Linked DNA regions of Homo sapiens: regions 2, 3 and 4 are each linked to region 1. Evidence: fine-mapped expression QTL. A gene starts in region 1. Each other region holds a variant in brackets. All regions are shown on one strand. Distances are between the middles of the regions.

Region 1 (8,109 bases):
AGCTCACACCTGTAATCCCAGCAATTTAGGCGGGTTAAGGTGGGAGGATGGTTTGAGTCCAGGAGTTTGAGACCAGCCTGGGCAATACAGCAAGACCTTGTCTCTATGAATTTTTTTAAAAAAGATTAGCCAAGTGTGGGGACGTGTGCCTGTTGTCCCAACTACTCAGGAGACTGAGGCAGGAACATCGCTTGCACCCAGGAGGTAGAGGCCGCAGGGAACCATGGTGGCCTTAGAGAAAGAGTGAGATCCTGTCTCAAAAACAAAGCAAAAAAACATAATGTACGTTAAAGCTATTTCTCCTGTTTCCTGGACTTTCTTTTCAAACCAAAACCCTGGACTTTCTTTTCAAACCAAAACCCTTATTATTCTTAACCCTCACCGGAGTTTTTTTTGTTTTTTTTTTTGGAGACGGAGTCTAGCTCTGTCGCCCAGGCTGGAGTGCAGTGGCGCAATCTCGGCTCACTGCAACCTCCACCTCCCGGGTTCACGCCATTCTCCTGCCTCAGCCTCCCGAGTCGCTGGGACTACAGGCGCCCGCCACCACGCCCGGCTAATTTTTTTTCTATTTTTAGTAGAGATGGGGATTCACCGTGTTAGCCAGGATGGTCTAGATCTCCTGACCTGATCCGCCCACCTCGCCTCCCAAAGTGCTGGGATTACAGGCATGAGCCACCGCACCCGGCCCTCACCCGCATTATTACAGTTGTGTGTTTTATTTCTACATCTCACCTTTTCCTCACTCTTTTTCCTTTCCATTATTCTCTTCTCATCTTCTATATACTTATTTTCCTTCCATTTTAATTTTCCATCACAAATTTCAAAACACTAAACAAAGTTAAAGCAATTAAGAGTAGATAAGCTGGATACACATGAGGGCTTATTAGCTTTAGCCACAAACATAATTACTTTCAATTTGGAGAGTCTCTAAAACCACTACATGGCAGCATTCATTAGCGCCTGTTTCCTTGCAAAACAGCCCAAGCTATGTTACTGGGTACCAATACTGGAAGTACTGTTTCTAAGTATATAAGGCATTTTATTAAGGATTTGGACAAATTTAGTCCAAACCTTAATCAGTATACATTAAGGTACAGTGGAAAGAGCATGATTTAGAGTCCAGGCTCTGGTGACTACCAGCTGAGTTCATTCACTCAACATCTGAGCATCTAATACATACCAGGCACTGGGAAAGATACAAAGACTAACGTAACAATCATATAAATGGTTACAATATATATTGATAAGTTCTACAAGAAAGGCATGTAAAAAGTTTATAGAAGCACAAAATATTTTAATGAAAGTTAGATTAGAGGGCCTTTCAACTCCAAAATTCTATTACTCTAAATCCTTTTAAGCCGTTTAATTAGAAGAGAATACCCACAGATTATAATTTTCTATCAAACAATGCTGCCTAAGCACTTCAATTTTGAAATACAAGTAACAGCTAACATTAAGCACCTAGTATGTGCCAAGGAATACGAGCTTTCCATACACTGTCTCACTTAACAGTCACTCACAAAAATCCCAAGCAGGAAGTAATAATGTCACCATTTTAGAGATAAGGAAACAAAAGCTCAAGAAAGACTAAAATAATTTACCAAAGTCTCACACATACTGAGGAAAAGGGAGATGTGAATCCAGATCTTCCGACTGCAAAGCCTATTCTCTTTCCACTAAACTACTTGTCTCATTTTCTTCCACTTACATAAAAACAAAATTTCCGGAGATCACCTACTTAAGAGCACCCAAGAAAAACCCTAAGATAGTCAAGTACAAAGTGATGACTTTTTTAAACTACAGTACCTAAACCTTTTTAACCTAGAGTACCTGCCGTATACACCCTCCAAAACAAAATGCAAAAAAGGATTACAAAACAAATACAACCAATATACAATAAATATGTGACCATAAACACATTATGAAAACTAGTTAATAAAAACGAATAAGATTTTGTGATTTCTTCCAACTGTTATATTTACCCTTTCTTGGTTCCAAGACAAATAAATCCCCAAGGAAGGAATGGCCCAGCATATTTTAATGTATAACATGCTGGGACGCCCTGTAATTATTTAGAAGTACATATTACAGAATATGGAGTACAAAATAAAATATAAAATGCTGTCAAACTTTTTTAAAAGACAGCAACATAAGTCCACTAAGTCTCAAATGTCTAATCATTAACAAAATTTAAAGCTATTTGAATGTCATTTACATGTTTGTTTTTCTCCGAAAACTTCCTTAAATTCACCTTTTTTTGGTCAATCCTTTTCTCCAGGTTATCAATTTTTAATTGTAAATCTGAACCAGCAAGCACAACATCCCTGAAAAAATAATCCTTTACAACAAATGAGGGGAAAAAGCAGAAAATTTTTTGTGCAAAATTCCAGAGCTCGTTGGAAAAAGTACTTGAACATAAATCGCTGGATCCTGGTGACAAGTTTTTCATCGGGACTCCTTTAAACTACTACAATTTCTGGTCCTGGCCCCAAACTTCGCCTAAGGACAAATTTTAAGATTAAGAAAAATTAGCTTCAGGTAGCCTTCACTCTATAGCTCAATCCATGATTTTGTAATACTGAAGTATCCCTCATTAACAATTACCTCAAACAACAAAAGATCTATTTCAAACGTTCTCAAGGATTCCAGTCTGTGATATATACATTCCCCCTTCCTTTAAGAGAACGGGGCCCAAGCTAAGAATCACACAAAAACAATTCACTAACGTTCTGTTTTCACAATTCCTCTGAGAAATTTGGAAATACTGTTAGGTATCACAACCATTTATGAGTCCTCAGTCTCCCACAGAGGTGATATTTTCTTTGGTTTCATACCTGCACTACGCAGCACAGAACACCAGCCCGGAAAAGCCGCTGGATCCTAACATTCCCTCCTTCATCCCGACACCCCCTCCCCAACCCCAAACACAAACACGCTCTTCTCTCCACGCTTCTTGCACAATGTCGCTGGTCAGAGGGCTCGGCTCAAACTCCACCGCCTCTTCGGGCCCGACGGGAACGCTTCCTCCCTGCTCGGCATTCCCTCACCACCGCTTCCTCGGCTGTCAGGCCCAGCGCAGCCTCGGCAGGCCGGGCGCTGCTGGGGAAGGGGCCGCCTCGGCCTCGCCAAAGGGCTCTTCACGATCCTCGGCCCAGTGCAACGGCGTCAGGCAGCTCTTCTCGAGGCAGGGTCCTTCACGAGTACCCGGACGGGCCCTCCCGGGTAGCGAAGTGAATAAACGACGGAGCAGGGCAGCACAGCACAGCTTCCCTTCCCATCCCGGGGGTCCCCCAACCTCCTCCCGCCCCCGCCGTCTGCCCGCCGCCATTTTGTGCGGAGCCGCTGCGACACAGATACAATAGTCGGCCCGGATCTCACAGGAAGGGCTCAGGACCCCCACGATACCGGCCTCCGCCTTCCAACCCCCTACTCCCCACAGGGCAGCGGTCCTACCTATGCCTACCCGACTAACAGCTGGATCCCATCCGCGCCCCACACAGTTTAGCACTCAGCCTCCAGTCTCGACGCCGAAAACGCTACCGCCTCCAAAGAGCTGCACGCATGCGCGCCTCCCAGCTCCTGCGAGCCCTCGTAGGCTCCCGGCGCCTGCGTACCGCTGGCACCGCGCTCGCCCGAAGCCCGAGAAGAGCCGGGCGGAGCGGGCTCCCGGAAGGGGCGCTCCCGCGTGGTGGCGGCGAAGGCGTGCGGCAAAAAAAAAAAAAAACTCCAGCGCCGTCTTCACTCTTTTGCTGGTTCTGTGCCTGTCCTCTCCAAACCGCTCATCCTTTTAAGACCTATATTGTCTCACCTCCTTCATGAAGTCTTCCCTGATCATTTGTGCCTTCAATAATAACATTATATGGCCAGGCGCGGTGGTTCACGCCTGTAATCCCAGCACTTTGGGAGACCGAGGTGGGTGGATCATCTGAGGTCAGGAGTTCGAGACCAGCCCGGCCAACAGGGTGAAACCCCGTTACTAAAAACACAAAAAATAGCCGGTGGCGCGCGCCTGTAGTCCCAGCTACTAGGGGGTGCTGAGGCAGGTGAATTGCTTGAACCCGGGAGGCGGAGGTTGCAGTGAGGGAAGATTGCACCACTGCACTCCAGCCTGGGCAACAGAGTGAGACTCCATCTCAAATAATAATAACAACATTATATTATAACAGGTTATATTCGCGCCTAGCACGTTAATATAATGCTTTGTATGGTCAAGATTTTGCCTGCTTTTATCCTGTCACCTTGCACCTTTTGATCCCTATGGCAATGATGTGTGTCATAGCTACTCAAAACTGTAAAGTAGAATTCAACCAAAGCTATTCAGCTAAAACTTTAACACTCTGAAAATCCTTTTGTCATTTCACAATAAAAAGCCCTATCTGTGTGGTAGATATTTGTAATCTCCATTTTACCCATGGAAAACCTTGGGATGACAGACGTTAAAGAACTGTGTTATGCAATGTTTTATCTTCTCGAGGTGGCTGTACTACACCAATATGAAAACCCAGTCATTGTTCAAAATCTGGTAAAGCTACAAGCCCTGCCGTATGCATACCACACAAATCACACCACCCACCCTGAGTCTCACACATCGGTTTTACCTAGCACTCAAGCAAATGCATTTCTTTTATTCACATTAAAACAAGCATTTGAAAGACTAAAAAGAAAAGTCGTTTTAAAAAGATATCTTATCGGATTTTCATTTCAAACCAAAAATCCTGCTAGGGACAACAAATCAAAAACAACAAAGAAAAAGCCAACAAGCTCCCCCTAAACACCAAATAACCCATGTTAACATTTGATAAGTTTCCTTCCATACATTTCTTTATATTCATACAAACACATTATTTGCATGTAACAGGAAATGTTTTCTTTTTTCACACATTAGCTATTTGCTTTTCTGATTACTGACATTTCTCCAAGTAAACCATATAATCCTTTTTTAAATAATTGTATAATATTCATAGTATAGCTGCCTCAGCAATTATTCAGCCTGTTGTTGAACACTGAAGTTGTTTCCAGTCTTTTTGCTACTGCAAACACTGCTGTATACAAAGACTTACCAAATTATGCTTTAATTTCTAAAGGCTAGAATCATCATAGTGGGAATGCTAGATTAAATGTATATGTGTGTACATACATTTAATTTTAATAGGTGTTGTAGAAAAACTTCCCAAAAAGTTTCTACAAAGTGTCACTTCCACTAAATATGTAAGAAAATAGGCAGGGCAAGGTGGCTCATGCCTGTAATCCCAGCACTTTGGGAGGCTGAGGCAGGTGAATCACAAGGTTAGGAGTTCAAGACCAGCCTGACCAACATGGTGAAACCCAATCTCTACTAAAAATATAAAAATTAGCTGGCTGTGGTGGTGCACGCCTGTAATCCCAGCTACTCGGGAGGCTGAGGCAGGAGAATCACTTGAACCCAGGAGGCAGAGGTTGCAGTGAGCCGAGATCACGCCACTGCACTCCAGCCTGGGTGACAGAGTCAGACTCTGTCTCAAAAAAAAAAAAAAAAAAAAAGAAAATAACCATTTCCCTACAAACTCACTTCTTTCTCAAACCTGAAATACTTTAAATATCATTGGACTTACCTGTTCTTTAAAGTTTGAAATAATTCACCTTTGAAATATCTTGTTTGGTGCTTTTTCTGAGAGTTGTTCTTCTCTAATTTTCTCTTGATACTTTATGATATTTAGTTGGATAAGAATTTCTCTCTCTTCCACAATGAATTTGGTAATTTATATTTTGCTTGAAAAGCATCCATTTCATCTAGATTTTCAAACATTTCCCTAGAGTTAGGCAAAGTAACTTATGAAATTTCTTTCATTTCCTTTATGTGGGCCCCTTATATGGCTTTATTTATTTGCACAGCACTTATCACCTTCTGATATACCAATAATTTATTTATTTGTTTCTTTTCCATCTTCCTCCACTAGAAATGTAAGCTCCCTGAGGTCAGGGATATTTGTCTGTTTTCTTCACTGCTTTATTTCCAATACAGAGAATGATAGTTGGTACGCAGTAGAAAATCAGCAAATATTTCTTGAAAGAATGAATGACTCTGATGGTGTGTATGTGTGTGTGTGCGTGTGTGTGTGTGTGTCACTGTCAAGCATCTTTTCATATCTACTAGCCAGGTGTATTTCTTTCTTTTTTTTTTTAAGTCTCCATTTAACTGTTTTATCTGGTGATAATAAACTGGCAACACAAAGGGGCCGAGGGTGAACTCCCAGCCAGGCTCCCGTGCCCAGGCTTTGGCAGGAGCCATGTGTATTTCTTCATTTAAAAAAACTCTTTTTCATATTATTTGTGCATATTTCTAGTGAAGTGATTGTCTCTTATCAGGAGGTAGCTCTCACTATATATTTGTCAAATATGTGGCAATTAGTTTCTCCTCACTGAAATTTTGTTTCTATCTTTTGCTATTATAAACTAAATGGTCATGAAATCAAATCTATCAATCTTTTCATTTATGACTTCTGAGTCTTCTTTTCATCCCACTCCCTTGAAGCATACACACCCAGAAATTACACAAAATTCTCCTGAGTTATCTAAACTTCACAGTTCATAATTGTTCACTTTTGTTTACAACCTCACAATTTTATTTTTTACATTTAGATGTTTAATCAATCTAACATAATTTTTATGGTATGAGGTAGATCTAGCTTCATTTTCTTCCAAATGAATAAAGGCAATCATGAAGGTTCCAGCTGTTAAGTAAACCATCCTTTTTCACATAATTGAAATATATCTTCCCCTTAAAAAGCAAATAACAAAAACTATTTCATTCCCATGTATAAAAATGGATTTATGGCTCTTCTAGTCTGGTTTAACGATCTATCTGTCTACCTCTGAGTCAGGGCCATTTCATTAACTGAGCCAGTAAATATGTATTGTTTATGTTTTTATTTTCTGTATATTATGATGTTTGACATCTTATTAACCTTTCTGGCTGGGGAGAAATTGCCACTCCTGGGGCTAGCCAATTCTTAGAGAAGGCAAAGTTCAGCCAGGAGCTTGACTTTGATATGCAAACTACCAATTCAGAGCCATCCTCCTCTATCTGGCAGGTATACCCCAGGAGGCAATATTCCTCTGCCTTAGTCATCCCAGGGTCAGGTACCAGGCAACCACAGACCACTCCTATAACTTAGAGCCTGTGGAAATGTTTCAAACTAGCCAGTCCTGAGCTGTTTACCCTGCTCTGTCTTCCCTTTCCCGAGAAACTCCAATAAAGGCCTTGGCCTGGGCTCCTCCTCCTGCCACTCGTTCCTGCCCCTTCTGCCTCCTGACAGACTTGGGTGTTTCCTCATGTGGCCCTGTATGGCAGAGCGTGCCTCCTGCTTTTAGGACCTGGGAGCATAGTAAACTTTGTTTCCCTGAGCTTCTCCTGGAACTCCTCTTGTGGCCGCACCTGACTGACCCTTACATAAAAGAACGCAGAACAAAATATTACTTGAGGGTGCACTCTGTGCCTGGAACTATTCTAGCCATCAAGGAGTGAGTAGCAAACCAAAAGGCAACACTCACTCCTGCCCTCATGGCACGTACAGCCTTGATCAAGGAGACAGACAATTAACAAGTACATTTATAGTATGTCAGATGGTGACAAACGCTATGGAGGAAAACAAAGCAAGATCAGGACACATAACAGAGGCTGCAATTTGAAATGAGATGGTCAAGAAAGGCATCACTAAGAAGGCAACATTTGAACAGAAATCTGACAAGTGTGTGAATAAGCAGTATAGAATCTAGGAGGAAGAGTATTCCAGGAAGAGTGAAAGTAAAATGTAAAAGCTCTGAGGTGAATGCCAGCTTGCTGTACTTGAGAAAGCAGAAAGGCCAAAGAGGCCACAACAGCATAATTAAGAGAGGACACGGGAGATGAGGTGGAGGGGAGCTGGAAACACTTGCTGGATTAGTGTGCTAGGGCTGCCGTAACAAATCACCACAAGTTGGGTGGCTTAGACAACAGAAATTAATTCTCTCCATTCTGGAGGCTTCAAGTCCACAGTTACGGTATCAACAGGTTTGGTTTCTCTTGACATCTCTCTCCTTGGCTTGCAGTTGGCTGCCTTCCCACCGTGTCCTCACATGGTCTTTTCTCTA
Region 2 (8,109 bases), 100 kb before region 1:
ATCAACTAATAAGCAGAAACTACTATGTATATGACGTTCCATTTGTGTGGTGTGACTAAAGGAGGAAGATTTTCTGAAAATGCCAAGAACAATACTAAAATTATATGCAAAGAGCATGTTTATTTTCTGAAAACCTCATACAAATCTTTTGTATTTGAAGCCCTATGATAAAAATTACCAGCATTAAGTGCAAAAAGTCCCAGAGAAAAACATTATTTATAATGTACAATTAATGGTCAACATTGGTCACTAGGATAAAACACAAAAATCACCCCTACCATTTTTATGCTTTAGCAGCTCCTCCTCTCATTCTAATTTAGAATCCCAATTTCAAAAGACTGATCCAGACAAGATTAAAGAAGCTTATAACTTCCCTAGTTGCAAAAGTTCCAAAAGCAAGCTGAGGAGAAAGGAAGATTCTTTAAAACTAAGATTCTTATTCACTATCACTGTGCTTCTGTAATTTACAGGCACCTTATTCCCCAATCTTTTAACAGCTCTTCTCCCTCTTATTATCCGGATTCATCTGTAAGGTTTTAATTCCAACAAACTCTTGACAGCAAGCCGCTCCTCTCTCTACCCCACCCCTTGTCTGTGACGTGTAGCATTCTGTAATTTTACTCAGGCTGTGGGTAAGTCTCGACTAAGTATGCAGTGAGTTTCATAGGAGGTGACAAAGAGGTGCTGCCTTTTTTTTTCTCCAAGCCCTTCTTACTGACTGTGATGTCTCTTGTGCTGTGATGGAAATAAGACATCTAAAAAAAGTAGGGTTTTTGTTGTTGTTGTTGTTGTTCCCCTCCATTCATCCTCTTTGTATTATTAATTGGTGCACTCTATCTTGAGGCATCAAATACTAAAACAATTATAAGTATTCAGACTATGTCTGAAGAATGGCTCAATCTAAAAACTTAAAAGTATAGGGCTATTTCCATCACCTGCTAGCCATTCAATTATTTTTTGTGCCCTTAAAACTTCTTATAAACATATTCAACTATAATTCAAATGGTTTAAAAAGCTACTCTGGTGGTCCACAGAAGTAATGGCTGCTCTGTAGATTCAAGCTAATAATAAATGACTAGCTTGGTGTTACCTTAAATGGGTTCTGGCAGAAACAGCAAGTGTTACCAGAAGCAGAAAAAATACCTTTCCAACACATATAAAAATCAAGCAAAGTTTCATTCAAACCTATTTGGGGAAAATATGCTGTAATCTAATTTTATCCAGAAAAAATTTGAATTTTAAGAAATCTATGACCTGTATACACATGAATGGTTGAAGCAAAGTAAAACACTGTCATGCTATGACTTCCAGTGATACATGAAGAATCCCCAAACATCCCAAATCACAGGAGTTGTAGTGAAAAACCTTGTCTGCAATCAGAGGCAAGCAAGTCTTTAAAAAATCAGCCACAAACACAGATGGTATTTTAAATATACAGTAGGAACATTTATTTTAACACTTCTAAAAGATATTTCTCCATGCCTGATGATTTGATATAAAAATCAAACCCATCATACTTTCCCCATCAGTCTCTCTACATTTAGGGCAATCAGAAATTTGTACAACACGAATATTTGCTTCTGAAACGAAAATTACAAATTAAATGATAACAAAAATACACAAATCAACTGGACCCTAAACAAATTTCTAGTGAATTCTTTCCTTTCCCCCAATCACCTAGAGCTTCTTTCTTCAGCCTCATTCTGCTCCTTTTCCTTTCTTTGCTTGGCCATGAATTTCTGTTAAAAGCAATTTGCAATATAAAATACTTATTAGACGTTATTTTGCTATGTGTGCAAACTTATCTACTGTATATTTATAATTTAAAAGAAACTGATCCTACAAAATATTATAAACACAGTGCCTTATATAACCATTTCTTCCTTTCATTCATCAGTCATTTGATGTTTATGACACACCAGGTATTACACTTGGTGCCTGAGGATTCGGTGGGCAACAAGACAGATAGAATCTTTTATACAATAAAGCTTACATTCTAATGGGAGAAGAGAAACAATAAAAGAAAAAAATAAAATACTTTGGGGGCGGTGGTAAGCACTTTAAAGACAGTGCAACAACGTAATTGAGGCTGAACTTTTTTGGGGGTTCTACTTAGCTAGGTCTTTCTTAAGCAGACCTTTCTGGGGAACTGATATTTGAGACGAAAAACATGAAGAACTGGCCATGCGAGTAGGACTGGGAAGGGGCAAAAGAACAGCAGTATAAAGGTGCAAAGGCAGCAATGGGTCTCTCATGTATGAAAAACAGAACAGAGAGAGCCAGAAAAGCTGAAACACAGAAAGCATTCAGAGAAGTAGAAAAGAAATCAGATCATGCAGGGCTTTGAAGACCCAAAATAAGAAGTTTGGATATTAGACCAAGTGCAATATGAAGCTACTAGAAGGTTTTAAATGGAAAAGTGACATGATGAACTAAGTTAAGCACACAGGTAGCAAAGCACAATGTATAAGAGCTTGGGCCTAGAATGAAATAGAGCGGAGTTCAAATCCTAGGTCTGCTACTAACTAGCTATGTGACCTTGGGTTTAGATACGTAACCTCCTTAAGTCTATTTTCTCATCTTTAAGATTGGAATAATAGCATCTACCTCATGAAGTTCATGAGGAGATTAAATAAGCTTCCAGCATAGAACAGCTCAGTAAATGTTAGATGAGTGTCTGTGCCACAAATTCAACAGAGAGGATGTACGAAACTCTCAAATATTCAGCAGGAACTAGAGTCACCACTTCAATTATGGTTAATGATGATTCTCCAGAGTAACACTTCTTAAAGATGTGTACAATTTAGAAAAGGTTTTGTGATTAAATCAGTTTAATAAATGGTTTGCATGAAGTTAACCAGGATTCATTCTGGCTAGACAATTCAGAAACTTTAATATGCTAATGTCTACATGACAAGAGGGCATCAAAACATGCAGTTTCTTACTTTAATAATGGAGTGTCATATGAGACTAGTGATCTGCAGAATCTACTCTGGCAAATGTTGCTGTTCAAGGAAAAGGAATAAGGACTAGAAATTACAGGCAAGGTACACTGAAGGAGAAAACAGGACTTAAGAGGAATAAACTGGCATAAACATTCTCCTAAAGCGGGGGGAAATGTACGTTTGGGGAGATAAATAATTTGATTCTAAGACAATAACAACACCTCAAGATTTTGTAAGAATTTTTAAAATTACCTCAGTATTTTGCTTATGACGTGTACTCTTGCAGTGATTTGTCATTGCTTTTTCACCTGAGTAGAAGAGGGAACAAATTGGACAGAAGAATCCAGCCTTAGGTACAAGAAAGTCTAATTCTAGAGGATAAGAAGAGACAAGAAGAAAATTAACAATAATTAATCTCCAGTTGTGTTCATCGATTTATTCATTTATTTGAGACGGAGTCTCACTCTGTCATCCAGGTTGGAGGGCAGTGGCGCGATGTCAGCTCACTGCAACCTCTGCCTCCTGGGTTCATGTGATTCTCCTGCCTCAGGCTCCCGAATAGCTAGGATTACAGGTGTGCGCCACCGCGCCTGGCTACTTTTGTACTTTTAGTAGAGATGGGTTTTATCATGTTGCCCAGGCTGGTCTCGAACTCCTGACCTCCCCTATAGGATGTGCCTGCCTTGGTCTCCCAAAGTGCTGGGATTACACGTGTGAGCCACAACTGGCCTTCATCAATTTAAACACGACAAAAATATTAAGCACAGTATATACTTAAATATAAGAACAGTACACACTGCTATAAATTTAGGGATCAATAGTAGTAATTTTAATCAGAAAACGTAAGTCTTTATTTCGTTAACACATTCTATACTATTCCAGAACCTCTAGGGAATGCCAGTATGCCACTGCTTTGGTATAATGCCAAGTTGAATAGATTCCCAAGGAGAATCTTCGGATAACAAAGAACTGTTCAATAATCCTTCAGAATACCAAGTCATTAGATAAGAACCTAACAGTCTAAAATATACCTCTGGCTGGGAGAAGTGGCTCAAGCCTATAATCCCAGCACTTTGGGAGGCCAAGGCGGACAGACTGCTTGAGCTCAGGGGTTTGAGACCAGCCTAAGCAACAAGGTGAAACCCTGTATCTACCAAAAATACAAAAACTAGCCAGGTGTGGTGGTAGACGCCTGTAGTCCCAGCTACTCATGAGGCTGAGGTGAGAGGATTGCTTGAGCCTGGGAGGAAAGGGTTGCAGTTAGCTGAGATCACATCACTGCACTCCAGCCTGGCTGACAGAATGAGACCCTGTCTCAAAATAAAATATAATAAAAATAAACCTCTTAGGAATCCCATTAAAATAAAAGAGAGAGAAGAGGTAGAATGATGGGCAACTGTCTGATTGAGGAGTATGATGGCTGAATAAGGTCTCCCTCAGCTCACCTTAGCTGACCATGAACAAAGTCGGCTAGCAAAGATTTGCAGCATGTTCTGCTTAACTGGAGTGACTTTCTGCCTGGGCAAATATAACTCAATTCTCACCAGAGTGGCAAAGAAAGCACCAGGAATAAAAGAGGAGATACATCCCAGATTTCAAGAGTGCAGTAAAAATATCCTTCTCAGGTAAAAACAGCCCAGTAAGCTGTCTTCAAAAATGCCACTGTGTAAAACATGCAAATTTCCACTATAAAATGACAATGCAGCCAAGGTTACCCAATTACTCACCTAAAACAATAGAATACTTATTATGGTGTTTTTGTTTTTT[T/G]TTTTTTTTGAGACGGAGTCTCACTCTGTCGCCCAGGCTGGAGTGCAGTGGCGCTATCTCGGCTCACTGCAAGCTCCGCCTCCCGGGTTCACGCCATTCTCCTGCCTCAGCCTCCCGAGTAGCTTGGACTACAGGCGCCCGCCACCACGTCCGGCTAATTTTTTGTACCTTTTAGTACTGACGGGGTTTCACCGTGTTAGCCAGGATGGTCTCAATCTCCTGACCTAGTGATCCACCCGCCTCGGCCTCCCGAAGTGCTGGGATTACAGGCTTGAGCCACCGCGCCCGGCCGACTTTTAAATTTCATATGGGTAAGAAAAAAATGTCATTTTAACTTTACCCTCAGGGACATCAGACGCCACTGATTTGCCTGAAGAAGAGTCTTCAGTCTTCTTGCGTTTTCGCTCTGGTTCTGAATCCTTTAATCCAGATTCCTCATCAACTAAAATTTTTCGAGGAAAAAAAGCTATTCAGAATAGATTTACAGACTTTGTAAAGTTAACATTGGATAATTCTTACCTTTTTCTTTCTCAGGGAAAACCTCCCTTTGTTAATCCCATCTGGCCATTCTTTGCACAATATTCTCCAAGATTCTTTAATGTAAGGAATAAATGGGTAAATCCATTCAAATGGATTTAGGAATATAGGTCTAAAGCTAACAGCAAATTTTATTTATATATGTTCCAGGCAGAATTTAACGAAGTAATACAAGTCCTATCATTACTGGCAAGAGAACTTATATATGCAAAGTGCTAAGCTGAGCCGAGAGTGGAGATTAAGGGAAAAGGATACCAGCAGAAATTGATTCTATGGCCCAATACTGAGGCCCTTCCAATCTAGAAAATGGAGCCTAAACTGATAGCCTAAGACCCCTGTTAGAAACACAAGTAAAATTATTAATATAAATGTTAAAGCCCACCAAAGTGAGTAACACGTAAGAAGCACTCAATGTTAGCAGACTCTGCATACTATGATCTTGGGGACAGACAAAAATGAAGACTGATTCCAAGCAATTCTGATTACCCTCAGTAGCTGAAATGCCTTACTGTTGCCTAATACTTGACAAAACCCTTTTACATATATAATCATTCATTTAGCTTTTACCTCATGTAAGATAGGCACGTGAAATCATTATTAACCCATCCCTATTTCTTCAGAGATGGAGAAAGCACAATCAAAAGAGGTAATAAACAGATATGCCCAAGGTTGCATAGCTAGTGAGTGACACAGGCTAGAACCAAGACTTTGTGACTTCAAGTTCAGTGTTCCCTCCATACATCTGGGCTACTCTTTAGTATTCCTGAGGGGATGGCAAGGAACTCTGAAATCATTACTTACTCTTATTCCTCACACTTTACTGATCATCAAGTCCTACAATCAATAAGAAAAAGGTATCTTCCTTTTCTTAACTTGATGGTTAAAACAATCTGGTTTCCTTGCCTCCAATCTCTTTCTATAATTGTTTATTTCTTCATCAGGGTAATAAACTTTCCCAAACATATCTGTTCCTGCCACTCCAAAGGCACATTTATCTTAATAGTATATAACATATATTAAAATTATATATTTAAAATAGATTAAAATAAATGATTTAAGTTTACAATTGTGTGGAAAAATGACTTTTTCTTAAGCTAGGTCCTTTTGTCAAAACATATTGTTCATTAGTAGAAATATATTGTTACGTAAGCAGTAACTAAATCATCCTTTTATATTACTCAGTTGCAATGAGGCAGTTCTAAGCAAGCTGATTGCCAAGGTTGCCCTACCATACAGAAATTCTGAAGTCGGGGGGTGACCTCATGAAATCATGCGAGAACCTAATTACTGAACCACCACCTATAGCTTGGTTATCAAAGATTGTTTATGGAAAAGAATAGACAAGGAAGAAGGAATACCCACTTGACCATGACTTGGCAAAGAGTTTCAAGAGAGGGCATAATCAAAAGTAACCAATCATGTGGAAAAGTCAAGTAAGACTAACTTAAGAAGAAAACACTTTAAAAAATCACGTTTGACAACAACCTAATGGGGGTTTCATCAACATCATTTTCAGGAAAGTGGTAGGAGAAAGAAACCAAAATACATTCAGTTCCATGGGAAATTAAGACGTAAAAGTAGGTGGTTCTTTCTAGACGTTTTGCTCTAAAAGCAAGTAGAAAAGATAGGAGCTAGAGAGATTTCAAGGTCAAAGGGATATTTCTTTCAATGGGAAAAACTTGGCCAAATTTTATATTTTATGTGTATAAAACAAAATATAAGTTGGCAGACAAGGGAGATCCTAGATTTACTCTGGCAAATAAAAACGAAAGCAAGGACATCCAATGAGAAACGGGTTAGGTGATGTAGAAGGGGGGGAAAGCTAATTTTACATCTGGTTAGGAAATAGTAAAGGAAGGAGACCTCTAATATATTGGGAGCAGCACTGAGAGCCCACCTGAAATCCTTGGACCAAATCATACTTGGTAAGTTTTCCTTAAAGAAGATAGGATAGGAAAGAAAGAGGGCAATGAGGGTGCTACAAAGAGAATGGTAAAAGCGATACCCTTACAGTGCTCTATTTAAATCATACTGGCAAGGTGATTTTTTGCTTAACCTCTCTGAATCAATAAACCCCTTGAGAGCAAGAGCTATGTACTTTCTTTTGTCTACCCTTTTTAACATTGTTATGAAGGATACCCAATACAATATGACAAGTATCTGCTGAGTGACTAAAGTATTCTCTCTCACTAGACCCTTCCTTATTTGTTTCAAGTTAAATTTTATAAACGCTATTAAGGCTTCTTGTTTAATTCATTGGCTGGCTGCTGACAAGCATCAACAAAGCAAGGTCCACAAATAATAGCTAGTTAATAAATAATTTCTATCTGATGCTGCAACATGGTCAGAAAACCTTTCGAGGATCATTTCCTCTAATCTGTCACATTCTAATATCAATAATCCATTCTCTCTACATTACAAAGATCAAAATGTTACCCACATCTAATAACTATAGTTGACTTTTCCCACCCCTGCTCTATTCCACTGATTTTCTACTTTTCTTCTTAGATAGATCTTTAAACTTCAACTACTCTCCTGTGTTGTGTAACTTTCCTTCCCATTCCAACAATCCTGCTTTACCTTCACTCATCTGGAAGGCCTCTTCACCTTTTGCTGGTTCTGTCACAACAGCTTTTTCTGATGGCAGAGTTTTCCCAATTCTAACTCTCTTGGTTGGAGTTTTAGCTTTAAAAAGAAAGTCCTAATTTATTGCTCTAGTAACAGTATTTAAATTGCTTTAAATTAAACATATTATACTGTCTGAATCAACATTATACATTTTTGCAAAAAATACCCAAATTTGGGAGGGAAGCCTACTGCTAATATAAAATAGAAGAATTCTATTTTAAAATAATCAGTT
Region 3 (8,109 bases), 520 kb before region 1:
GGCAGAGAAAGGTTATTCAATGTCCCCCAGAATTGCACAAAAGGGTAGAAAGACAGGCTCAAAAAAACAGATGAGAGTAGTGGAAGGCTGAAAAGCCAGGGCATAGCCCAAAGCACGTCACAGAAGGGGCTCTGAGATGCACCAGCTCTGAACACTGGGCACAACAGCTGGCACTGCTGCTGCTGCTCTCCCTCGAAACTGAAGGCTGCTGATGCTGAAGTGACCACCAGAATCATTCTTCCCTGTCCTGGGTTTGGTTTAGAGTCCAGGCAGGGAGTCTCCAGCCCTGATCAGATGCCCCCATCCCAGTCGCATGGGAAGTTAGCATCCAGCTTCAGCATCTGTAGCAGGAGTGGGAGTGGGAGGTGGCTGAGCCTATGCCTCTCCACAGCCTCTCAACAGGTTCAGCCAGCAATCAGCTGCTACTGTGGTCAGTGAGTGTATGAAGGAAAGGGAGGCCTGCCCTCTGGATTCCAGGCCTGTGCATACCCGTGTGGCACCCGCTGTGGGCAGCGGTGAGGCAATGCGGTACAGAGTTGGAACCTGAGCATCCTGCCCTCTGGGTCCTCACCCGGCCCAGGGGCACTTTTATGATGGTATTTCTCTCAAGAGCTCCCAGGCTGGTGAGAGAAAAGTCTCACCCATAGAAAACTTCTGGAGACATCAGAACAAGGGCAAGAAATGCATCTCGGCCTTTAAGTGCTGCTAAGAATTCAAGGAAGAGATTGGGGATGTCAGGGAGGGCTTGGCTGAGATGGGCCTTGGAAGAAGATGGTGTTTCAGGATGGAGGGATGAGGGAGGGCATTTTGCTGTGAGTGGAGTTGTGAGCAAGAGAAATTTCTGTCCCTTTAGCATCTCTTACTGAGATATGCCAGTGACTGGCCAGCTCTCTCCAGGGATAGGGGGTAAGGAATGACAGAGGGGGCCTGGGTTCATACCCCAGCCCAGCTAACCATGAGGTTTGCAGCTAGAGGCTTCTTAAGTGTTGGGAAGAGCACAGGCTTTCAATCTTGTTCCTGATTCTTCTGATTTTGAGAGCTGCTTCATGTATCTCTGAGCCTCAGTATCCCCATCTTTAAAGTAAGCATAATAGTAGTGCCTCCCCTGGGCCTGCTGGGAGTGTTACAGTGAGGTAAGGGATATAAAAGGCTTAGGACATGGTCAGGCACATAAAAGCACATCTTATAGCCAGTGTGGCTGCTGCTTCTGGCAACGACACAGCAAGGTCAGAAAAGTGCCCAGCATGCAGGCAGGGTCCATAGTGGGCACCAGTGCATGTTTTCCTTCCCTATTCCCTGATTCCAGTGCTGTCCCTCCCACCCAGGTGCACAGTGTCCTCAGCGCTGCCCCTACCCAGGAATCCCTCAGCTCTCTGATCTTGGAGCATGTAATGAAGGGTCTGTGGGAGGACAGAGAGTGCAGGAAGTGTGGGCACCCTCAGCCTCACCTCCCCTTGTGTCCTGCAAAGTGTGATAGAGGCTCCTGGTCACTCACTCAGCCAGGAGGTGCTCCCTACAACCTCCTGGGTCTGACTGGGAGCTCTCTGAGGTGAGCCATGCCGCGTTACCTGGATGGGCACAGGGCTGGGGGTGGAAGGACAGTGGAGGGCACAGACTACAGCCTTACCCAGAATGGGCCTCCATCCCCCACTCACCTTCTCTCCACCCCACACACCCCCAAGGTAGAATGGGGGCAAGGAGCTCCACGGCAGGACATAGAGGCTTAGAGGAGCTTCAGGTGCCCTTGACCTCAAAACACCGGGGCTGGGTCAGCTGGACTGCCCTGAGCTTTGAGGGGAGGGAGCAGTGTCCCTGTTCTTACACCTTCAGCCAGGCACAGCTCACACCACTAGTTCCTGGGGTCAGGGTCTGGATACTTTTCTCCCTCCAGCCCCGCAGGTCCAGGCTCCGGGCTGCCCTTTCTTCCCTCCCAGCCAACCTACCGAGCAGCCCTGGGCCAGCCCCAGCTGCCGCTCCCCTCCCCGCCTCCCGTCCCCAGCACAGAAGCCCTGTCAAGGATCACTGCAAAGCACCACGTGGAGATCTAATCTGGGGCGGGGGCGCCGAGCTGAGGCGGGGTGGAAGGGGTCGACGAGAGGAGGAAATTAATGATTAAATAATGGGTTCCAAATGTAGCGGCTCCGAGTGAAATCCCCAGCCGCAAGCCGGCAGGCTGCACGCTCTCGGCCCGGCTCCAGGAGCCCCGAGGAGGCCCAAGTAGGCGGCGGAGATGCTGGTGGCGGCGGGCAGGCGGCTCCCCCTAGGCCCGGTCAAACAGTCCTGGCCAGGACGCGGGGTCACCGGGTTGCCTGTGGGGCCCTGGTGATTCCTGATGACAGGTGGGAGCCCTGCCACTTGGAGCATGCCTGCCGCAGAGCAGGGACCCACCGGGGGTACACGGCAGTAGGGGCTGAACGGGCAGTGAGGAAGTCTTGGCTGGCAGGGCTGCAGACACTCTTGGCCTCCATGCCTGGCACCCACTCCCCAATTCATTCCACCACTTCATTGTTCTGGCTACCCTGAGCCTCAGCTCTTCCTAGAGCAAGTCCCCAGAAAGAATCTGAGGAGAGGGGAGACCTTCCAAGACCACCAGTCCTACCCTGAACCTTCCCCCATGAGCATACACCCCTTCCTATGTGGAACTGTGACGCTTGCCCGATATGTGGGTGAGACAGTCCCCTACGATGAAACTTTGGTCTTATCTACAGCAGATTCCTTTCATTGTGCCTCAGTTTCCCTCTGAACACTGAGGGCTGGGATTCCTTTGTAGCATTCCCTGGAAGCTAGGATTGTTTTGTATGCATTTTTCTCTCTGACCAGTCGGGAAGGTGTGTGAGCCAGCCCCTGGACTCTACAGAGGTTTCTACTAGAGAGTTCTGCCCTGGGCTCTTGACACACCTCCTGCGTGTGAGGGGAGGGCCCAGGTCTGGGAAGCTGGGGACAAGTATCTTGGCCCCATTGCTCCTTTCCTCCTCCTCTGGAACCCTGCTTGGAGCCTGAAATTTTCCACACTGAGCCTTTGGCTGCGGACGCTGGAACTTTTGCAATTTCCTGACTTGAAAACTGCTCCCCCACCCCTACACCCTCCACCACGTTCCCGTAGGTCTTGTGGGGGTGGTCACCTCAGCAGGGGCCCAGAGCCCAGGCTGTAGGGAGAGCATGCATCTAGGCCTTTGGCTGTGATGTTGAAAGGTGCACTCTTCGGCTGGAAGCTCCCATGCCACTGTCTGTCATTGTCTGCCTGTCTTACCCCAGACCTCCCAGGAGAATGACTCACTTAAAGGCCCAGGAGAGTGGGGATCAGTGGGGCAAGAGGGAAATCCATATCCAGGTAAATTGAATTGAATGATGGTAGTAGAATTTCTGTGTGTAAGTCCAACCATACAGAACAGATTCTACCCTGGAGTTGGGGCACTGTCCCCCTCCGAGACCAGGTGAGGAATGCTGAGAAATATGTGGGCCTGGGAAGGTGACACACAGCCCCGAAAAGCATTGGGTTTAGAGCCTGG[GA/A]CCAGACCAGACTCAGAACAAATTGGAAGCCAAGGTGCCCAACTCTGCTCCTGGCCATTTCTATATTGCTGAGGCTGCCACAGTGGGCCCTGGCTGCTTCAAAATGCTGCATCTGGCCAGGGGACAGCTGCCAAGCCCGAGCCTGCAGGTAGAAGCCGAGAGGGAGCAGTTCTCATATGATTTGTGCAACAGTGCGGAGCCATGTCATTTTCCACTCCTGCAGCTCTCCAGAGCTATTCTGTATCATATCATCTGGGGGCTGATAGCCCAGACCCAGTCCAAGCCTGCCATGGGCCTTGTGTCACATCCTGCCGAGCTCTGGGGCACAAATCCTGGGTCACTTTTATGGACTTCCATTCTCTATCACTCTGGACAGGCAGGCCAAATAAACACCAGGCCCAATAAGCCTAGGGCCTTCCTCTCCCCGGGTCCCCCACACCGCCTCATCCAAAATCCACACACCATCAGGGATTGCGCGTGCAGAAGAATTTTAATAAAAACAAGCAATTCAGAAGGGCTGGCAGGGCAGCCAGGCTGGCCTTGTAGACTGGTGCTATTCCTGGCCTGGGAGGCCAGGAGGCTCTCCTAGGAACAAGCACTCCCAAGACAAATATGGAGCAACAAGCCGGCTTTGTTTTTTACCTTTGAAGACAGAGTGTCCAGGCTGGGACTTGGCCACACAGGACGAGAGGGGAGGGTCTCGGAGGGAGGGACTAAAGAGGGATCAGGGCTGACAGCAGTGTGTATTTGGGGCTCTGGTCCTTTTTGAAGAGGGTGGCCATTTAGGGTCAGTGTATGGAAGTAAGGGGGCAAAATTTTCATTAGCTTTGCCACCTGTCTGGTCTCAAGTTGTCACCTCACTCAACACCATTCCCCTGCTCGCCCACAGCTCAGTCAGGTGCCTGCTGTCCCCAACATGAAAGTCAGTCACTAAGGGCCCCGAGCCATGGCACAGATGGAGTAAAAACAAAAATCAAAAACAAAACTGAGAACTTTTAATCCCTTGGTGCTGTGGAAATGGATTTTTTCCAAAAGGAATTTAATTAAAGACAGAAAAAGACCAACATAAACCAAGAAATCGCACACACATGTGAAAAGTGCTGTGACAGCCCCATAGCCCTGGCCTGAGAAGAGAAGTCTGGGCACTGGGTTCCAGGGCCCCCAGAAGCCGGGCCTGTGGAAAGCAACCTTGTCTGCAGCAGTTTCAGAAGGCCATGGGGGTGGGGAGTCTCAGTCCTCCGCAAGGTGTGAGCCAGGCAGTCTCACGGCCCCAGTCAGGGAAGCTCAGCTCTCGGCGGCTGCCCGGTGACCATCCAGACTCAGTGGTCAGGATCCCTGCTTTCTGCCTTGAGACACGACCTTGCACTGCTCATGCACAGGGTGGTGAGGGTTGATGCTCCCTGGTACTCACCAAAGCTCACATAATAACATCTGCCCATTTTAGAGAAGTATCTGACCCTTCTCTCCAGTGGTTTTTCCTTTTCTTTCTTTTTTTTTTTTTAAGCAAAAATAGGTCTATTTTTGTGATTTTTAAAATTTGACAAAATTTTCTTAGTCCAAATCGATCCAGAAAATTGTGGTCAGCAACTCCCTCCCCTGTATGCAGCCACATCAAGGCTCTGGACGTGGTGAGCCTGCTCCTAACAGCTCTTCAGGCCCCTACGCCCTCCTTTCCGACCTGACTCCTGTCTTTTCAGATGCTGACAATGTGACTCATTTCTTTCCAAAGCCCTCACTTTGTCCCTTAATGTGTGGCTCAGCTCAGGCTGGTGGCTTCTCCTTGTCACCAGGATGCAAGATTCCCACAGCTACAGTGCTCCTGCCCCCTGGGGAGACGCCTGCCCCAGTTCAGCCTGACTCTGGGCCCTTGCGTCAGGGCACAGCCCCTCCCAGACAGCCCCCTTCTAGGCTTACAGGGCCTAAAAGGAGGTTAAATGAATGAATGAGTGAACGGTGAACCCGTTTGCAGTCTGCACACATAAAGGCCTTTCCCGAATGCCCAGGCAGAGCCACTCATTCTGTATTAACCCCTTTCTCATAACCCTTATTACACATTTCTCATATCAATATCCAATACTGATTATCTCCAGGCCTGCCTTGTGTACGCTGTATCCTCCTAACATTTAGAACCATGCCTGGCACATAGTACATGCTCAGTAAATGTCCATGGAATTAGCGACTGAGATTGATATGATTTCAATGTTTGTCCCCTCCAAACTTCCTGTTGAAATGTGATTCCTAGGTGGGGCCTGGGGGGAGGTGATTGGGTCATGGGCAGATCCCTCATGATTGGCTTAGTATCATTGCCTTGGTAATAGGTGAGTTCTTGCTCAATTAATTCTCATGTGATCTAGTTGTTTAGAAGGGTCGGAGACCACTCCCTTTCTCTCTCTCTTGCTCCCGCTCTCACCATGGGACATGCTGGCTTCCCTTCACCTTCCATCATGATTGGAAGTTTCCTGAGGCCTCACTAGAAGCAGTGGCTGGCACCATGCTTCCTATGCAGCTTGCAGAACCATGAGCCAATTAAACCTCTTTTCTTTATAAGTTACTCAGCCTCAGGTATTCCTTTATAGCAACATAAGAGCGACTGACACAGAAATGCCACTTGGAGTTTTCTCAACCTGGGCTGTGATTCTCTTTCTTCCTTTTGTTTCTGCACCTCTCACATCTCAGTTTAAGCTTTTTCTTTCCTTTCTTCATCAAAATCATTCAAGATTTCCCTGGAAGCCTCTCTCTCTCCCCCCGCCCCCACCCCCCTTCTCTCTGTGTTTCTTTTCTGAGACAGAGTCTTGCTCTTTCACCCAGGCTGGAGTGCAGTGGCACAACCATGGCTTGGTTCACTGCAGCCTCAACCTTCCAGGCCCAAGTGATCCTCCTGTCTCAGCCTCCTGAGTAGCTGGGACTACAGGTATGCACCACCACACCTGGCTAATTTTTTTTATTTTTTGTAAAGACGAGGTCTCACTCTGTTGCCCAGGCTGATCTCGAACTCCTGGGCTCAAGCAATCTTCCTGCCTCAGCCTTACCATATCTGTCTCAAGATTCTGGGGTTGTAAGGGCCTCTGCCCTCTATTAGGCTTTGCCTTCTCAAAGGCAGTGGCCTTCCATTCTAATCTCCATCTCCTCTGTTGCAGCATAGTGCCCGGCACTCACAACTGTCCTATGAATAAATGTAGAAGAACCAACAGAATGCATGAACTAATGAGTGACTATTTTTCTCAGAGTTTTTGGAAATCTCACTGGCTATCTAATGGTCACTATTCATCAGAATTCCTCCCACTGTCACTTTTCTAGTTAATTTGTTCTTGCAGATCAGAATTAACTCCAAAGAAAAATTATTAACCCTGGGTGTTATAGACTTCTGGAAGATAACTCTTCTATCTTTTATCCACTTTCCGTCTCTGCCCCACAGAAGCCACATAGCAGTCAGTTTGGTATCAGTCAGCATAAGCAAAGTGATGATATGGTAACAAATAGCCCTCAGTATCAGTGACTTAACATAGCAGGTCTGGGTGACTCTCCTGGCAGGCTCTTCTGTGCAATGTCTTAACATGGCCCCTCCACATCAGCAGGTGCCTACACAGCTGCTGCAACAAGACAGAGGTGGAGAGCTGAGCATGGCCAGGCAAGTTTGATTAACCAGAGGGGCACACAACACTTCTGCTCACATATCTTCAGTCAAAGCAAGCCACATGGTCCCTCTTAATTCCTAAGGAATGGAGAAGTGCCACCTCCCATGTACCTAGAAGGTGGGGAGAGCAGATATTGGGCAACAGTTAGTGGTCCCTGCCACACTGGAATTGGGGTCAAACTCAGCCTGCAGAGACTGGTAGAGGTTCCAGCTGTGGCTGAGGAGATGAGAAACAGAACAATGGAAAGAACCCCACCCTGGATCTCAACCAGGACTTGGACTTCTCAGTCACACTAATTACCATACCAGTCACTTCCTATGATTTTTGCCAGGAGCTCTGCCGGGAGCCCTGAGTAATCACAGCTTCACAGTTACCATCAGGGCAAGCTTTTTCAAACTTCCCTCAGGCAGCAGATTTCAGCTCAGGTCCCTGGGCCTGGGGCCTGAGCATCTTCCTCTGAGGGCCTCTCATTCAAACCTTGTCCCTGTCGAAGGGACACTCCAGGGAAGAGTGACTAGAAGGAGATGGTCTGCTGAGTTGAGTCCGCTGCCACAGCTTCACCCCTGCTGCAGCCCTTCCCAGCCCCTACCTCTTCCCTCCCCTATAACCCCCTGCCTGCAATTCCCACATCTCATGAAGTCTCTTCCCCTTTGGCTTTCTTGGCCAAACCCTTGGTCTGGGTTCCTCAGGTGCAATCTAGTGGCAGGGCCAGAGAGCCAATTTGATCTCTAGTTTAAAAAACAATAAGATGAAGAAAGGGGAACGGGAGAGGGAGGAGAAGGAGATTATTGAGCTCTCCAATTAGAGCAAGACTGGTTACAATTCTTTTTTTTTTTTTTCTTTTTTTTTGATATGGCATTTGCCAGAGCCCCTTAAGGGTCAGCTGCCTGGCTCTTTGATCCAGCAGTCCGTTGATTCTATCCTCATCAGCCCTGCCTCCTTGCTCAAGCCTCTCTGCTACCCC
Region 4 (8,109 bases), 38 kb before region 1:
TAAAGTTCTGTTTCTAGAAACAACCTAAATATCAATCAGTAAGGAATTGGTAATACATCTGTGGTATATTCATACAGAGAAACACTATAGAGAAGTTACAAAGAATGAGGAATGCACTAACATGGTTAGACTACCAAATCAAATTATTGAGAAATGTGTGTTATAGAACCTCTATAAAGTAGCCATTCCACAGCTAGTAGAAAAATTAAATTACTAGAACACATAGCTGGGTGGAGCAAAATGGTAGAATAGAACCCTACACTGTTCATCCCATCCCCAGCAGGAACACCAAATTTTAACGACTATCTGCACACAGAAAAGCATCATCACAAGAACCAAATATCAAGTGAGCATTCATACTACCTGGTTTTGACTTTGTATCACTGAAAGAGGCATTGACGAGGGTAGCAGAGACAGCCTTAAATCCCTGACAGCACACCTCCCTAATCTGGCCCCACAACATGGACAGAGTCTGTGCACTTTAGGAAGGGACAGCGCAGTAACTAGGGGACTTTACATTGAACTCAGTGCTGCTCTGTCACAGTGGACAGCAAAGCCATGCTGTACTCAGCCAGCACCCATGCACTGAAGGAGCCTTTGGACCAGACCTAGCCAAAGAGGACTCATCCATCCCGGCAATAAGAATCTGAATTTCTTGGCAAGTCTCACTACCATGGGCTAAAGTGCTCCAGGGTGCTAGGTAAACCTGAAAGGTAGTCTAGGACACAAGGACAACAACTCCTAGGCAACTCTTAGGGCTGGGGCTGGGATTAGAGCTAGTGGGCTGGGATGGCATGTAACCTAGGGAGGTACCAGCTGGGAAAACTGGATATCCATATGCATTAATGAACCTGAACCCTATCTCTCACCATATACAAAAATCAAATAAAAATAGATTAAAGACTTTTATCTAAGATCTCTAACTATGAAACTACTACAAGAAAACACTGGAGGAACTCTCTCTCCAGGACATCAGTCTGGGCAAATATTTCTTCAGTAATACCCCACAAACACAGGCAAATGCTGTACAAAAATGAACAAATGGGACCACTTCAAGTTAAAAAGCTTCTGCAGAGCAAAGGAAACAACAGACAACCCACAAAATGAGAGAAAATAATTGCAAACTATCCATCTGACAAGGGATTAATAACCAGAATATATAAGGAACTCAAGCCACTTTACAGGAAAAAAATCTGACAAGGGATTAATAACCAGAATATATAAGGAACTCAAGCCACTTTACAGGAAAAAAAAAAACTAATACTCTGATAAAAAAAAAATGGGCAAAAGATCTGAAGAAACATTTCTCAAAAGACAACACATAAATGGCAAAAAGGCACACGAAAAGGTACTCAACATCACTGATCATCACAGAAATGCAAATCAAAACTACAATGAGATACCATCTTACCCCGGTTAAAATGGCTTTTATCCAAAAGACAGGCAAAAACAAATGCTGGCCAGGATGTGGAGAAAAGGGAACCCTCAGTATATTGTTGGTGGGAACGTAAATTAGTACGATCACTATGGAGAACATTTTGAAGGGTCCTAAGAAACTAAAAATAGGATCAACCATACAATCCAGCAATCCCACTGCTGGGTATATATACCCAAAAGAAAAGAAATCAGTATATTGAAGAGGTATCTGTACTCCCATGTTTCTTGCAGCACTGTTCACATTAGCTAAGATCTGGAAGCAAACTAAGTGTCCATCAACACATGAATAGATAAAGAAAATGTGGTACATAACACAATGGAGTACTCTTCAGCCATAAAAATGAATGAGATTCAGTTATTTAAAATAACATGGATGAAACTGGAAGTCATTATATTAAGTGAAATAAGCCAGGCACAGAAAGACAAAGATCACATGTTCCCACTTATTTGTGGTATCTAAAAAATCCCACAATTTGTGGGCTCTAAAACAACTGAACTCATGGAGACAGAAAGTCGAAGGATGGTTATGAGGCTGGGAAGGGTAACAGGGGGTAGAGGAGGGGATAATTAATGGGTACCAAAAAAAAACAGAATGAGTAAGACCCAGTATTAGCTAGCGCAACAGAGTGACTATAGTAAAAAATAATTTAATGTTACATTTTTAAACAATTATAAGAGTATAACTGGATTATTTGATACACAAAGAATAAATGTTGGAGGGGACAGATATCCCATTTTCCATAATGTGATTATTACACACTGCATGCCTGCATCTAAACATCTCATGTACCTCATAAATATATATACCTACTATGTACCCACAAAAATTAAAAATACAATAATTTTTTTTAAGATATAAAAATATTTTCTCAACACCCTATTTTAAAAAACACACACATACACAAAGAAAACCTTACAGGTGAGATATACATATAGCTTTTTACTTAACAGAAAGCTCATCCTTAAAGGGTAATTTAAAGTAATTCTATAGATATTATCTACGATCATATGAACTGAAGCACAGAAATGATCTAGAAAAATTAAAGTTACAAAACTTGATACTTCTAAGGAAGTAAAGGCCCAAAGAATGTACACTATACGATTTTGTTTATGTAAAGTTGAAAACAGGCAAAACTCAACTATGGCATTAGAAATCAAGTTAGTGTTTACTTGTGAGAAGAAGGGAGGGTGTAAGAATTGGGAAGAAGCAAGCAAGGGACTTCCAGATACTGTCAAATGTTCTCTTTTGTGACCTAGGTACCAGATTCACAGATGTTTGCTATTTTTGTGTTATATATGGCAAGTATTTTCTCCTAGTCGTCGTTATTTAATACTGTATATAGCACCATACATGTATGAGGAAGTTTTAATTTCAACATACTTGAATTAATGCACATATAATGTGTTGAGCTAACATTTATGTTTCTATGCCTATTTCTATATGTGTGCCATACTTAAACAAAAAAGTTAAACTAAAACAACAGTGATAAAACATTTAAGACCTAAATCCAGATTACCTGTGCTTTTTTCTTTCCTGGAACACATATTTTCACACTTTTTCCTTTTATCGTAAGAGGTGTTGTTTCAATGTACTTCATAATTGCAGTAATTGCCTCTTTAAATTCCATTTCTAGGTAAGCCTAAAATGAAATTTATTCCATCTTTAGTCACAAATCTATCTTTAAAAGTTCCTGCATTTTAAAATGGGCTTAATCCTTTCTTTTGTAACATCAAACTATGAAACTACCTCAAGTCATGGTTGCTTTTGCCTGTTTTTATTTTGGTCAAGTATAATTTGATTAAGGATGTTTCACACATTAAATGGACATTTAACCTTACATAATTTCTATACCACTACCAAGATAAAAAAAAATCCAGGCAGGCTCATGGAAGAAGAGGAAATGAGAAGGCAGGGCTCACTGAACAACAGGAGGGAAGGGAAGATATGGTCCAGCTTGTGGTAGGTCTGACATTTTAAAGGCTTCTTGCAACAAAGACAACACTATCACTATGTTCCCTGTCCTGACTCACAAACTTTTTAAAAAAATTAAGACAGAGGTCTTGCTATGTTGCCCAGGCTGGTCTTGAACTCCTGGCCTCAAGCGATCCTCCAGCCTTGGCCTCCCAAAGTACTGGGATTACAGACTTCAGCCACCACACCCAGCCTTAACTCACAAAACTTTTTTTTTTTTTTTTTTTTGAGACGGAGCCTTACTCTGTTGCCCAGGCTAGAGTGCAGCGGCGCCATCTCTAGTCACTGCAACCTCTGCCTCCCGGGTTCAAGAGATTCTCCTGCCTCAACCTCCCACGTAGGTGGGATTACAGATGTCTGGCTAATTTTTGTATTCTTAGTAGACACGGGGTTTCACCATGTTGGTCGGGCTGGTCTCAAACTCCTGATCTCAGGCGATCCACCTGCCTCAGCCTCCCAAAGTGCTGCGATTACAGGCACAAGCCAACACGCCCAGCCTTAACTAACTATTTTATGTTGTGCTTATGTGAAGAACTGTTCACAGTTCTTAACTTTATCATGTGAGTTATAGGAATATAACCCACAGAAAATACTTAACCATACAAAGGAAATAATTTGTTTTAGTATTATCTAACTGGT[G/A]TTCTAAAGTAATGACTGGCAAACTATGGCATACTACCTATTTTTGTAAATAGTTTTTTGGACACAGCCATGCTTGCGCATTTACATATTACTTATAGCTGTTTTTGTACTAGAATGCCAGAGCACAGTAGTTGAGATCCTACAGATGGCTTATAAAACCAAAAATATTTAGCTGGCCCTTTACAGAAAAAGTGGGCAAACACTTATTTTAAAGGATATAAAACATTATTTTGCGGCCTTGCTTATTCACATCCAGACATTTATATAACTCTCAAAGAACAATTATATATGCAGTACAAGCAGCTAAGGAACACAACAGCAATTTATAGAATCATTAAAGCAATCACTTTGTATGAATTTTTGCCACAGACTAAATGACTCACCTCTTTTCTATATGGAACAATTAGGACATCATTCACTTTCCCAAATGGTTGAAATAATTTTCTCACATCTTCTTCAGTACAACCATCCTCTGGTAATTCAGTTATAAGAAGAACCGAACCATAATGCAATGACTGTTCTTTCCGAAGCTATTTTTGGAGTGAAAGAAAATTTAAAATAAACCAAATTAAGCTACAATGTACAGTAATAATTTCCTATATAATTTCTTCTACCACTAATATTAGTACACTAAAGGGTCTTTTCCATATTTTTTACCCATTTTTCTTTTTCCTTCACCACCTCCTTTACGCATTTTTAAATCACGATTTTAACACTTTAATAAGATTTTAAATGCAAAAGTGGTAAGAAATGTTATTTATATTTTTTAACCCAGAAATGGTTTACAGGTGCTCTTTTCTGTTGATAGCATCTTATAGCAAATAAGATCTATGGAATGTTCCAAGGCCATTAGAGAGAATTTTTCTATGAAACTACATGGCCCACCAACAAGTAAAGCTGAAATTACAGCTTTGCTTACCCCCTCTGTTCTAATAATTGGAAATGATCTCTAGACAGGTATAATATTTTTAAAAATTCATATATAATGCATACCATTTGAATACACTGTAGTATCAACTTTACCGCTTACGTTAAAAATTACAGCCAGGCATGGTGGCTCATGCCTGTATCCCACTGCTTTGGGAGGCCAAGGCAGAAAGATCGCTTGAGGCCAGGAGTTTAAGACCAGGATGGGCAACATACTAAGACTCTATATTTTTAAAAAAAAAAAAAGGCCAGGCCTGGTGGCTCACGCCTGTAATCCCAGCACTTTGGGAGACCAAGGTGGATAGATCACAAGGTCAGGTGTTCGAGACCAGCCTGACCAACACGGTGAAACCCCGTCTCTGCTAAAAATAAAAAAAATTAGCCAGGCGTGGTGGCACACGCCTATAATCCCAGCTGCTCAGGAGGCTAAGGCAGGAGGCAGGAGAATCACTTGAACCTGGGAGGCGGAGGTTGTGTGAGCCAAGATCACGCCACTGCACTCCAGCCTGGGTGACAGAGCGAGACTCTGATTCAAAAAAAAAAAAAAAAAAAATTAAAACACCCAGCTGGGTGTGTTGGCGCATACCTGTAGTCTTCTACCTGGGAGCCTGAGGCAGGAGGATACTTGAGCTCAGGAACTTGAGGCTGCAGTGAGCTATGACTGTGCCACTACACTCCAGCCTGGGTGAGAAAGCGAGACCCCCATTTCTCTTATTTTTTACTAAATAAGAAAACTTAAAAAAAAAAAAGTTCCACTGCCACCACCTAGAAGTCTTGAAACAAAATGAAAAGAACTTCATATTATGAGACTAACTCAGCCTCTTCAAAATTTTCCCTATACTCAAAAATTTCTTCCCAATGCTCTTCAAAATTCTGTTAATTACTGGTTGATTATCAGAAGTTTATCCTTCTAAATGTAAGTTCTTTGGGGCAGGGAACAGCACTTACTGAAAGTCTTTCATGTATTTAAATACTGTTGAGAGCAATGCATTCCATACCTAAATACTTGAAGACTTATTAATATTAAAATATACAAAATATTTGATATTGGGCCTATTAGGATTTTCTCTGAAGATAGTCTCTTGATGTTTTAATATATTAATAGTGATTTAATAAACACATACAATAAAACAATACCTTAGTATCGTAACCAGTAGGTTACAGTCAAAATAACACTAATAAATCAGTACCAAAGTATAAATTTTACACTGTACAACAGAGTATTTGACTTCTGAACTGTACCACAAAAAGTATAGAACAGATGAATAATGATCAATTCTCAGGAGAGGCTCACTCTTATACCTTACTAAAAAAGATTACAAAAGCTCAATAATGCTGCTGGTGATTATTCATTTTCCCAATTAGAGAGCAAAACTCATCACAGTGATCTGCTTGTGAAGCTAGCCAAAAATGCCAAACCATCAAAATGTTCTTTTGACACATCAAATACCAAACCACTGGAATTCCTAAGCTACGAGATTTTGAACCTTGGACTTTTATTATACTCACAAGAAAAACCAGTAAAATATTCCATACTAAAATCATGTAACAAAACTCATAATTTCAAAGTTATTGGAAACACGGAATAAAAAAGTTAAGACAACTTCATTTTTTTTTTTTTCTTGAGACAGGGTCTTCCTTCTGTAGTTCAGGCTGGAGTGCAGTGGTGTGACCTCAGCTCACTGCAACCTCTGCCTCCCGGGCTCAAGTGATCCTTCCACCTGAGCCTCCCAAGGCCTCCCAAGTAGCTGGGACTACTGGCACCCGCCGCTACCCCCAGCTCATTTTTATATTTTTTGTAGAGAGGGAGTTCCACCACGTAGCTCTGGCTGGCCTCAAATTCTTAAGCTCGAGCGATCCACCCCGCTTGGCCTCCCAAAGTGCTGGGATTCAGGCATAAGCCACCATGCCTGGCAACAACTTTGTTTTCTGTTTGTCATAGCAAATGTACGCATATTTGCACTAACAAAGAATTACGAAGCCAGGCATAGTGGCTCATGCACTTAGGGAAGCTGACGTGGAAGGACTGCCTGAACCTAGTAGTTCGAGACCAGCCTGAGCAACATGGCAAGACCCCATCTCTACAAAAATTAAAAAATTAGCCAGGCATGGTGGCACACGCCTGTGGTGCCAGCTACTTGGGAAGATGAGGCAGGAGGATCACTTGAGCCCAGGAGATCGAGGCTGCAGTGAGCCATGCTTGTTGCACCACTGCAGTCCAGCGAGGATGACAGAGTGAAACCTTATCTCTAAAAATAATTATTAATTAAAGAATTACCTTTCGCTGGAGAGAAACAGCTTTATCAGACACCTGTTTACATTCTGACAAAGTGTCATCTTCAAGATTCTTTGATTTACAACGAATAGAATGTCCTCCTAGATTTGAATCACTCTTTGTAGCGCTTGTAGGTTTAACTGATGGTTTTGTTCCACTGCTAGTTTTAGGCTTTTGTGCTGGTGAATGTCCCTTATCAGCAGCTTCAAGATGCTTCTGTTTATTAAATTCTGTCCCATGCCCAGATCGTTGTACTACATCTTCTAATGCTTTTTTTCTATCTAGTAAAAAGATATAAATATAATTTCAATTGGAAAAAAATTAAGGTAGGAGCCATCTCATGACATAATCACATAGTGCTATTCTCAAGCTAAACAGGGAGCACACAGACAATACAAAAATCTAGATTTTATGCACTCAGAAGGCTTTTACATGAAGTTCCTTTATTCCCTTATACCAGTGATCCTCAAACTTTTGGTTTTGAGATTGCTTTACACTTATTGAAGACTACAAAGATTTGTGTTATATTTACTGATATTTACCATATTAGAAATTAAATTGTAAAAATATTTATCAATTCATATGTTAGGTTGGTGCAAAAGTAACTGCAGTTTTTGCCACTGAAAGTAATGGCAAAAAAAGTAAATTCCCATATTAACATAAATATTTTTATAAAAACCAACTGTAATTCCCAAAACAAAATTAGTGAAATGTGTAGCACTATAGTACCTTCTTCCACACATTTTAATGTTGAGCTTAAAAGAAGAACCTAAATTCTTATATCTGCTTCTGGATAAAGAAAATCCAGCCTCATGGAGGCATGTAATTAGAAAAGAGATCTCATAGAACTCTTAAAAGA

The links. PIP is the estimated chance that this variant, and not a neighbour inherited with it, causes the effect.
Region 2: its variant is the best candidate, but not a certain one, in a credible set for the expression of ZNF638 in whole blood (TOPMed, PIP 0.54).
Region 3: its variant is the best candidate, but not a certain one, in a credible set for the expression of ZNF638 in blood mononuclear cells (TOPMed, PIP 0.90).
Region 4: its variant is the best candidate, but not a certain one, in a credible set for the expression of ZNF638 in whole blood (INTERVAL, PIP 0.59).

The regions. Positions count from the first base shown.
Region 1 is chr2:71,327,220-71,335,328 of GRCh38, reverse strand. It overlaps ZNF638 (zinc finger protein 638), which reads right to left and starts at 3,547. Exons shown (of 28, transcript NM_014497.5): 1 at 3,454-3,547. RefSeq lists enhancers at 2,581-3,266, 3,267-3,954 and a silencer at 3,538-3,747.
Region 2 is chr2:71,428,372-71,436,480 of GRCh38, reverse strand. ZNF638 (zinc finger protein 638) reads right to left here. Exons shown (of 28, transcript NM_014497.5): 25 at 7,830-7,934; 26 at 5,053-5,154; 27 at 3,198-3,316; 28 at 1,420-1,739. The coding sequence ends at 1,674. Among named protein-coding and RNA genes, the nearest start is that of DYSF, 34 kb to the left of the region's middle. The variant T/G (reference allele first, on the strand shown) is at 4,713.
Region 3 is chr2:71,846,427-71,854,535 of GRCh38, reverse strand. No RefSeq gene overlaps it. Among named protein-coding and RNA genes, the nearest start is that of CYP26B1, 300 kb to the left of the region's middle. RefSeq lists a silencer at 5,063-5,357. The variant GA/A (reference allele first, on the strand shown) is at 3,510.
Region 4 is chr2:71,364,851-71,372,959 of GRCh38, reverse strand. It overlaps ZNF638 (zinc finger protein 638), which reads right to left. Exons shown (of 28, transcript NM_014497.5): 6 at 7,254-7,531; 7 at 4,432-4,578; 8 at 2,955-3,077. Among named protein-coding and RNA genes, the nearest start is that of ZNF638, 37 kb to the right of the region's middle. The variant G/A (reference allele first, on the strand shown) is at 4,049.